Regions from separate parts of the Homo sapiens genome. Here region 2 is linked to region 1. The links come from fine-mapping of genetic effects on gene expression. Tissue or cell type: coronary artery. Region 1 holds a variant in brackets; the other region holds the start of a gene. All regions are shown on one strand. Distances are from middle to middle.

Region 1 (5,383 bases):
TTCTGAAGCCAGTCAGTGCCTTGAGAATCACTTCCGCGGCAACATGCTGTCCAAACAGCTTCTCCTTCAAATCCAGCTTGAGGGCTCTAGGAGTCAGCTCCAGAATAGAGAAACACACCTTAAAAATGCGCCAGAAAGGCCGGGCGCGGTGGCTCACGCCTGCAATCACTTTGGGAGGCCGAGGCAGGCGGATCACGAGGTCAGGAGATAGAGACCATCCTGGCTAACATGGTGAAACCCCGTCTCTACTAAAAATAAAAAAAAAAAAAATTAGCCAGGCGTAGTGGCGGGCGCCTGTAGTCCCACCTACTCGGGAGGCTGAGGCAGGAGAATGGCATGAACCCGGGAGGTGGAGGTTGCAGTGAGCAGAGATCGCGCCACTGCACTCCAGCCTGGGCGACAGAGCGAGGCTCCGTCTCAAAAAAAACCCCAAAAAACAAAAAAGCACCAGAAAAGCAGCACTTTCCCAGCTGGCAAAATGAGAGGCACAGATTAACAACTGATCCAGCCGGGCCTCTGTCAAATATGGCAGCCACTGGCCGCCTGTGGTTATTATCTGAGACGTGGCTACTCTAACTGAAGGTTTGTTGTCCATGTAAAATACACATAAGACTTTGAAGAGTAGTAAAAAAGATAATATTGGCCGGGCGCGGTGGCTCACGCCTGTAATCCTAGCACTTTGGGAGGCCGAGGTGGGCGGATCATGAGGTCAGGAGATCGAGACCATCCTGGCTAACAAGGTGAAACCCCGTCTCTACAAAAAATAATAATAATAAAAAAATTAGCCGGGCATGGTGGCGGGTGCCTGTAGTCCCAGCTACTCGGGAGGCTGAGGCAGGAGAATGGCGTAAACCCGGGAGGCAGAGCTTGCAGTGAGCCGAGATCGCGCTACTGCACTCCAGCCTGGGAAACAGAGCGAGACTCCGTCTCAAAAAACAAACAAACATAAAAAAGTTTAATATTGGTTGGGGGCGGTGGCTCAAGCCTGTAATCCTGGCACTTTGGGAGGCTGAGGTGGGTGGATCACTTGAGGTCAGGAGTTCGAGACCAGCCTGGCCAACATGGTGAAACCCCACATCTACTAAAAAAAAAAAAAAAAATACAAAAATGAGCCGGGTGTGGTGGTGCACACCTGTAATCCCAGCTACTCGGGAGACTGAGGCATAAGAATCACTTAGACCTGGGAGGCAGAGGATGCAGTGAGCTGAGATCATGCCACTGCACTCCAGCCTGGGCCACACAGTGGGACTCCATCTCAAAATTAAAAAAAAAGACAATATAAAAAATTCAATAAATTTTTATATTGATTACATACTGAAATGATATTTTGGATATGTCAGGACAAATAAAATATTAAAATTTGTTTTGCCTGTTTATTTTTTATTTTATTTTTTGAGACAGAGTTTTGCTCTTGTTGCCCAGGCTGGAGTGCAGTGGCACGATCTTGGCTCACTGCAACCCCGCCTCCCGAGTTCAAGCGATTATCCTGCCTCAGCCTCCTGAGTAGCTGGGATTATAGGTGGCTGCCACCATGCCTGGCTTTTTTTGTATTTTTAGTAGAGACGGGGTTTCGCCATGTTGGGCAGGCTGGTCTCAAATTCCTGACAGGTGATCTGCCCGCCTTGGCCTCCCAAAGTGTTGGGATTACAGGCGTGAGCCACCGCGCCCGGCCATTGCCTGCTTTTTTTTTTTTTTTTTTTTCTATTTTTAAAGGTGGCTAATAGAAAAATTTGTATTATATGTGTGGCTCACATTACATATCTAGTAAATGGTGCTGATTTAAAGGATATAATTCAAGGAAGAGAGAGGGTAACTGATCACAGAGAAATGGTCTGATATGCAAGAAGGAAGGGTAAGCAAATAAATTGGTAAATATATGAGTAAAATGAAATAAATATTAGCTGTATAAAACAATAGCAGTAATGTCTAATTTGGGGGTAAAATACAGGGGCAAAAATATGCACGATGAGAGGGAGATGATCGGAGTTAAAGCATTCTAAGGTATTGTTTAGTGAAGGGTAGAGATACCAATTAATTTAGGGCAACCCCTAAAAGAAAATAAATAGATTATACACTTTAAAAAAAAATAGAGTGGAAAAAAAAAAAACAAACCCAAAATCAGATAGTAAATGGGAGAAGCAAGCAAAGAAAAGGCAGGACAAATAGTAAACACCAAGTAAGATAATCAGAATAATCTTAATAATAATAAGGTCAGTAATTACAATAAATACAAACTTACTTCCTAAAATATACCAGCTAAAAAACAAATTATTGGACTAGATTGAAAAATTCCACTGTATGTCATCTCTAATATGCATACCTAAAAACAGTAATAATTGAGAGTAAAATAATGTTTAAGGGCTGGGTGCAGTGGCTCACGCCTGTAATCCCAGCACTATGGGAGGCCGAGGTGGACAGACTGCTTGAGCTCAAGAGTTCAAGACCAGCCTGTGCAACATAGTGAAACCCCGTCTCTAAAAAAAATATAAAAATTAGCCAGGCATGGTGACCCGTGCCTGTAGTTCCAGCTACTTGGGACTTGAGGTGGGAGAATGGCTTGAGCCCAGGAGGTGGAGGTTACAGTAAGCTGAGATTGTGCCACTGTACTCTAGACTGAGTAACAGAGCCAGACTCTGTCTATAAAAAAAAAAAAAAAGAGAGAGAGAGAGTTTGAGGCATTGAGACATACCCTCAGACATTTAAATTTTATCAGGTGGGCTCCACGCACTGATATATTTTAAAACTTCCTCAGGCAAATCTAATGTGCAGCTAAGGTTGAAACTGGTTTAACTTATGTTTTATTTAATTAAACTAATTAATTTTTTTTGAGACAGGGTCTCGCTCTGTCACCCAGGCTGGAGTACAGTGGCGTGATCATGATTCACTGCAGCCTCAAACTCCCAGGCTCAAGCGATTCTCTCTCCTT[A/G]GCCTCTGGAGTAGCTGGGACTACAGGCATGAACCACCACACCTGGCTAATTTTTAAAATTTTAGTAGAGACAAGGTCTTGCTATGTTGCCCAGGCTGGTCTCGAACTCATGCGCTCAAGCGATCCTCCCAACTTGCCTCCCGAAGTGTTGGGATTATAGGCGTGAGCCACCACACCTGGCCTACAATATACTGTTAATTAAAAAAAATTAGATAATGGAATCAGCAGGCATAGTATTATCTCATTTATGTAAAATTTAAGTCTTTTCTCTGTGTATCATCTATCTATAGAGTTGTCTTGAAATAGGCTGACACTCATATCATTGTTGGAGGGATTGGTCACAAAGGCATAAGCAGGCTAGTGCTAGATCAGCATAAGCCAGCATTAAAGTAAAGGTGAAGAGGATTTCAGAGGCTGTAAAGCTGTGGCACATTCTAGTTGGTTATCAGAAAGTCAAGTTAGAGAAATAAGGGATAAAAAATTGGTAATAATTGGGTAAACTCCAGGAATCAGTAGACATATATTATTGACCTAGAACACTTGAGTATGGCTAATATTTGTTGGACATCATGTAAATGCCTTGGCTTGACAAAATCTTCAAGAATTCTATTTCTGGGCTTTCATACATGAACTTTTTTGGGTTATCTTATAGATAGATAATATGGCCCTAGGCAGTTAGGATAACTTAGATTGATGTTTCATTGGAGGTCAGGTCAAGAAACCAGAATGCAGTTTAGGGAGGGGATTAAAAATATTTAAAAAGAAAATCAGAATTCCCTTTATAAAAAATCAAATCTTACAAAGACTCCCTATATATAAATTGGTATTTTATCAGCATAAATGTATTTTTAATATTTATGTGTTTTGAATACATACATTCATAGGGTTTGAAATTCAAAAGGATATGTAATTCTATCATTTTTCTTCCCTAAATAGAAGTGATGGCAATACTTTTCTGTATCTTGCTTTTGTTGATTATTGTATTTGAGCAATCATTTCACATCATTATAGAGTATTCCATTAATGGATGAACCGTGATTTTATGTAACCAATCCCCTATTTACAGACATTCAGTTTGTTTCCAATCTTTTGTTACTGCAAACAGTGCTAAAATGAATAATCTTGTACTTAAGTTATTTTTGTACATGTGTAAATATATATGTAGGATAAGGTCCTAGAAGTGAATTTGCTACTTTAAAAGATATGTAAATTGTGATACTGTCACCAAATTGCCCTCTATAATGTCGATTTATACACTGACAAATGGCATATAAGCATGCTTATTTCTTCAAATTCTCATGAAAATGTGTCACAGAAAATTTTTGCCAATCATATAGGTGGAAAGTGACATCTCTGCATATTTGGGTTTCTCTTACTATGAATGAGGTTGATGTATTTTCATGTCTCAATGTCATTTATATTTTCTTTTCTGAAAACTGACTGTGTATATCCATCCTCATTTTCTACTGAGTTATTGAATGTTTTTTTCTTACTGAGTTGTAGGAGTTTTCTATGTATGTAGAAAATTAACTCTACATGATATGAGAAGCAAATATTTTTCCTCATAGCTATTTATCTTTAGAATTTGCATGTGTGTTCTTTTCCAAGCATACATTTTCTGTTTTTATATATTATTAATCTTTTATTTTTAGATTTTTTGGTTTTATATTATGCTTAGAAAAGCCATTCCTATTATTTTCTCCCCATGGTCTGTGTATTAATTATTAATTTATTGCCTCTCAACTCCAAATTCATCCTTCAGTACATGCTCTGTGATAAATTCCTTTAAGCATTTCTCTTTTACAGTGAGCACAATGTTAAGTTTTCTTAGTAAAGGGCACTGGAGGGACATAAAGAGGCTCTCCTATTGTTACATGCAGCATACTGTGGGTCAGCTGTGGGGTATAGGGACACCTAATGGTGACCCATCCATGCATTCAGAATTCATAGTCTTTCAGTGACTTCATAGCCCTGCCTGGCCTAGTAATCGCCTTTCTGCAGCCCTTTCAACATGGACACCATATGATTCAGGCCTCCTGCCTGTACTAATGCCTAATTCCCTTTGCTTACTTGTTCCTCCCCGTGAGAAGTTTGTCTCCTGTGGCCATCTCAATGCTACTGCTCTTCCAACATGGAGAATACGTATTCTGGGCATCCTGCCTACACTCTCTCTGCATGCCTGTAAGCCCAGCCACCACTGTAGCTCACCTATCACTGGAGAGTAGCTTCCTGCTTTCCCAGGAACTGCAGACCAACTTTAGCCTTGACAAACTAGTGAACTCTGCCATCCAGTGGGTTACAAATACACATTCTGCAATTTGGTGTGAACCCCAGCCTCGGGAAGGGAGTCCCCCTTTCAAGTTTGACTTTCCTTAGGATCTCTCCCTTAGCCCTAGGGTACCATATAAATTCCCTTATATCTTATAGGTAATCTATTATCATAGTTTAATATGTTAA
Region 2 (5,383 bases), 280 kb before region 1:
CAGAACAATGTGAATATAATTAATGCCACTGAATTGTACATTCAAAAATAGTTAAAATGGTCAATCTTATGCTTATTTTGCCATAAAAGGAAATCATTTTAATAAAAATATTTCTTTATCACTTTGATTGGAGCTATGTTAAATGTAGATTAATCACAAAGAGCTGTGTTGTATGAGCAACAACAAAAAACAGTCCTATCCAAAAAAGCACTTTTGTTCTCCAAATTCTGGCATTTTCTATGCTAGGCAGGCCTGCTCTGCTTTGCTGGCTGGCTTTTTGGGGGTTCATGTTACTGAGCAGCGATGAAAGGCTGAACCAGGACCAGGGGAAGAGGGTAGCTTCATCCAAGATGGAGGAGAAATGGGCAGGAAAGAGATGATGGGTGGGGGCAGAAGCAGAGAAATTCCCATGGGGCCATGAGGATGAGATAAATGGGGTGGGTGTAGGAAAGGAATTTCCTACAGGGGTGGAAAAAGCTGGCCTTTGAGGGGAGTAACAGAGGAGTTACAGCAAGAATCTGTAAAAGAATCACCATGTTCCACTGGTGAGCTGGAGATCACAAACGTATAGTTTTCATATTCTTCTCACCTCTTCTCTTCCAGGCAACAACCCTGACGGGGTTGAGGACCCTGGTTAGCTAAATAAGTGAGGAAGAGTGGAAACCAGGGACTCCCCATCCAGACCACCATCCACCACGGGCCTCTGTTCTTTAGCAGCACCAGAAGAGGCTCCACTCCAAGTCAAGATTGAAGTGGTATCTTTAGGTAGGACTGGAAATTATAATTATTAAAATGAGACTGAGACCAAGGGTGGCTGGAACAACCTTGTGACTTGCCTAAATTCCATTCAGGGGCAAAGCAAGAGCTAGTCCCACCGAATAAATGTAAAAGAGGCTGGGTGCAGTGGCTCACGCCTGTAATCTCAACACTTTGGGAGGCCGAGGTGGGTGGATCGCCTGAGGTCAGGAGTTCGAGACCAGCCTGGTCAACATGGTGAAACCCCATCTCTACTAAAAATACAAAAATTAGTTGGGCGTGGTGGTGGGTGCCTACAACCACAGCTACTCAGGAGGCTGAGGCAGGAGAATCGCTTGAACTCAGGAGGTGGAGGTTGCAGCGAGCCAATTATTGTGCCACTGCACTCCAGCCTAGCGACAGAGCGAGACTCCATCTCAAAAAAAAAAAAAAAAAAAGAGTAAATGTAAAAGAGCAGTAAGAGACAAAAATCAAGCTGCTTTCTGATTTTACCACATAAGTCATGTTTGTTCAATGGAACAGTGCACATTAGCTTTAATTGTTAATTAACACGCATCTGTTAAATAACCTTGTATCTGACTTTGGATTTTAAGCTTTCTGAGGGCAAGGACCATGTGCTGTTTAACCCCACACTGTTCCCACAGCCTGGCAAAGTGCCTCAAATTTACACAGGGGGCACTGAGATGGCTGCTGAGTGAATTGCTGACCAAGAGGGACTGCCCCACATCAGGCAGCCCATGCCATTACTGTGCTCACACTGTGCCCGACACAGAGCAAGGGATCATAAGTCCTGGGTGGCTTGAATTGACTCTTCCTAAAAAAAGAGTCTGTGATCTAGGAAGTCCAATATAAAAAGATGTTGCGGATTGCCCAGACTTAGAGTAAGAGGGGCAGAAATGAAGTAGGCATGGATGGTAATTTTGTTTTTCCATCAGGGCTGCTCTTACTCTGGAGTAAGGAGAGGAAGGCTAAGACACAAAAGGGGGACTCCGCCCAACCCAGCTTATGTCCTGTGATACCAGAAGGGAGCATTGCAATGACCTATTAAACCTCAAACCAAGCTGAATCCATTTCTGAGTAAGAGACTCTTACAGGGCTCCTGTCCTCAAAACTATATAAAATTGCTCAAATTATGTACTTCTGAGATAATAAATTAGCAGAAGAAGCACATAGCCCACCTCTTAAGATAGGGAAGTAGATCTGAAGTAGCTCAAGAAACAAAGTTTTCTACAGATGAAGGATGAGGGAAGGAAACCCAAGACCAGTTGATTCTGGTTTGGGAAATGATAACACTGGAGAACACACTCTACTATCTGTTTCTTGTGACATCCTTTGTGCTAAAGTTATCTCCTTTGTTGGCATGGCCACCATCCCTACTTCTAGTGCAGTGGAGATGTATGAGTGTCTCCATTGCTAAGTGTTTAGTTACTCAAGATAAACTTGACTGGAGAGGGTGTGGGCAGGCATTCAGTCAAGCAACAAGCCACTCACTGAGTGCCACCAATGGTGTGGGAAAAGATGACTCTCCTTAGACTGGTCCATCCAAAATAAAGGAGGTGGGGAGAGCATACCTGGGTGGTCTTCAGGGTACTCCTGGAAACATCCATCAGCTCATGAGCTCACAGCTGAATTCCAAATCCTGGGATGCCTGCTTGGAGGGAGGGTAAAACACCATTTCTCAGGGACAGAAGCCCACAAAGCTAAGGGCACTGGGTTTCTAAGTCAGGATTTCATCACGGCTGGATGACCCTTTTTTAAGGAAAGCCAGCTGATCTCCAGGACTCCTGATACATAAGAGCTATGCAGTCTGTCACTTCTAGGGAGAGAGATGGGGACTAGCTCTGGTTCCTCATGCGTTCCTTCCCTCTCACTCCCTAAAGACCTCAAGAAACAGATCCTTGGTAACAATGCCTTCTTTGGGCCAGAAAGCTTAGTTGAAGTGTGGATTCTTATACAAGTCTCATGTTTTCTGGACTCCTAGGAGACTCAGAGGAGACACCATAGGTAACCCTTATTGAACTGGAAGAAGTGTGAAGTACTATCAACCACTGAGACTCCCATGGCTCAAGAATATGCACAGAGGTCTAACTAGATATAGGTCTCAGCCCCTGACTTTAGAAGTCTGACATTCCACAGATATGCACACACTACACGCTCCCCTCACAGAGGAAACTGGAGTAGGGGGACACAGCAGAACAAAATCGCAACACTACTACAGGAAAACCTCGTCATTCCGTTACTTGTCCTTTGCTATGTTGGAATACTTATAGATTAGTTTCAACAATCAGGTTACTCCTTATCTTTGCTCTAAGTCTTGTACAGGCCTTTAGCAAAAAGCAATAAAATTCTCATCTGACTCTTGGTGGGCTGGGGAATCTGCCTATTCTATTCAGTTGGTTCACTCACATCTCCAAACCAGAACCTACAACCACTCTGTAACTTTATTTATGTAAAATCCACTCTACTTACCCCAGTGCAGTGGCCTGTGGCTCCTGGGCCCTGACTCCAATTCCTTTAGGGTGGACCTTGCAGTTGGAACCATCCACCTCTCGTTTTTTCTATCTCTGCTATTAACATAGCCCCTCCTCTATTGCCTCACCAACTATTTTCAAACCAAAAAGTCTTTGTCTATTCATAGCCACTGTAAAAGTAACATTCATTTTTCTGTTTTTTAATCTAATGTCTGCGTCTTCAGTGGTTCTCACTGGCTAATCTAATCAGTGTGTTCTAGGGAGGTTTATTCCTTGCCTGTTCAGCTTGTCCCAGCACAACAAAGGTAAGTCATTTGCCTGGGGAGAATCAGCTCTTTTAAATCAGACAATCCTCAGGAAAGATGTCAGGACTTTTGCCTCTTTTCTTCATGGGACTGAGATTCAGGAGAACATTCCACATTCCACTGCCACACAGCTCTGCAAACCCCAAATCCTGACTCTCCGAAGAAGGATATGGGCAAGGAAAACAAAGAAGGCATTTGAAAAAACCAAACCTTGCAAGAAAAACTTTGCGTACTTGGTGATTTTTCCAGGTTTATCCTGACTTTTGGCCTCTGTTTTTATGAATTCCATTTTTGTTTAAGTGAAAAAGATACGGTGAGAGAGACATAGTGGAAAATGGGAAGTTTGGAGGAAGATGGGAAGGAAGAAGCCAGTGAGTAGGAAGTGAGAATCGGGAGTGGAGGGAGTGAGGGACGCGGTGCTGAGCGATGGGGAAGAGAAGCATGCCAGGAAGGCGCAGCGTCTCTGGGCACCCAGCATGGGGCCTGGTATATGCACACATTTCCCCTCATTGAACTCTCAACAGTCCAGTGGGGAGAGCATTCTCGTCCCCAACCTTACAGAGCTGGAACAGAAGCTCAGAGACTTACAGACAGGAAGAAAAGTAGGAGCTGGAAGCCCCATTAAAAAAGCAACTCTACCCCTCTTCTTCCAGTCTCTTCTGTGGCTTCTCTAAGGGTCTTCAGCCTCCTTATTTCAGGGTTGACCTTCTCTTTCAGATAGGAAATTTATCATCTGGTTGGATATCCTCACTTTCTTCCTAGATCACGTGGAGTTTTCCCTTAGTGGAAAAGCCTCATTCCTGGATCTAGAGCCTGCTGGTGGCAGACATGTAAAAAACATGTTTCGGAGGCCATGCCCAAGCCAACACATTAACCCAACATTATAGTTTCTGTTAATAATCCATGGAATCAAAGACAGGCAAGACTAGGGAGATCAACACATGCTGGGTCACCAGAGGCTTTCCTGGTTTTAGCACAGAAGATCTGTGACCCAGGAAACCCCTTAGTCCCAGGAAGATCAGCACAGCCTAGGCCAGAAACAGTTTCGGGCCTTAGGGAATTTCCAGCTGGTTGGGGATTCAACAAATTCAGAAGAGTGTGAGGCTCCAAAAAGAAGCACAAAGGGAGGGAAGGGTTCAGTGAAAGAAAAATCACCCTTGTTTGGAGGATTACCTTGTTCCACAAATGTTCATGGCTTACCTACCAGCCCCATGTGTTAAAGAAAAGCTTTGTGGAGAAAATGGCCTTGGAGATGCAGTGAAGGGATAGGATAGGGGTAGGATTTAGAACAGTAGAACTACCAAGGGGTATCTGAGGCAGAGGGAAGAAGCCACAAAAAATATAGACATAAGAGGTGGGAGAACATAGCATAAATATCCTGAGAACTGGAGAGCAGTTTCCCTGGCACAGGGCAGGTTTGGGGAAATAAAGCTTTGGGCATGCGACGATAGGCTGGGTAGTCTATGGAGAGGTGTAAACATCAGCAAACATGTCTGAAGTGAAAGGAATGTGGAAGGGGACTTGGTACAAGAATGGAATAATGGACTTCACAGTGGATTGTAGCACAGGTGGAAAGACCAGTTGAGACGTTACTGCCAAGCATTCAAGTGAAACCCTTTGGTTTCTACCTACCCAGGTTTTGTTCAAATAATTTGGACATTTATTTCAGACACTTCAGGTTTGGGGTTTTTTTGTCTCTCACTTCACACAGGAATTTGAGGGTGAGCTTCATCTGGTTTGGTGAGGGTATTGGAAGGTATGGGGCAGGGGCTGTCCCTCCAGGATGCACAAAGGGAACAGGTTTGCAGGCTCAGGAATCCTCCTAATGGAGGAAGGAGGAAGGAGGGAGGA

Which allele goes with the higher level. Alleles are on the strand shown, and positions count from the first base shown. SD is a standard deviation of normalised expression in the study named.
For the expression in coronary artery of the gene that starts at base 3,286 in region 2, A is the low allele of the variant in region 1 and G is the other (large effect, 0.80 SD a copy in GTEx).

Evidence for each region. PIP is the estimated chance that this variant, and not a neighbour inherited with it, causes the effect. A credible set is the group of variants that fine-mapping cannot tell apart.
Region 2: it holds the start of SLC4A5, and the variant in region 1 is the best candidate, but not a certain one, in a credible set for the expression of SLC4A5 in coronary artery (GTEx, PIP 0.55).

The regions. Positions count from the first base shown.
Region 1 is chr2:74,620,863-74,626,245 of GRCh38, forward strand. All of the region lies in intron 2 of M1AP (meiosis 1 associated protein), which reads right to left. Among named protein-coding and RNA genes, the nearest start is that of M1AP, 25 kb to the right of the region's middle. The variant A/G (reference allele first, on the strand shown) is at 2,927.
Region 2 is chr2:74,340,131-74,345,513 of GRCh38, forward strand. It overlaps SLC4A5 (solute carrier family 4 member 5), which reads right to left and starts at 3,286. Exons shown (of 31, transcript NM_133478.3): 1 at 3,226-3,286; 2 at 2,328-2,404.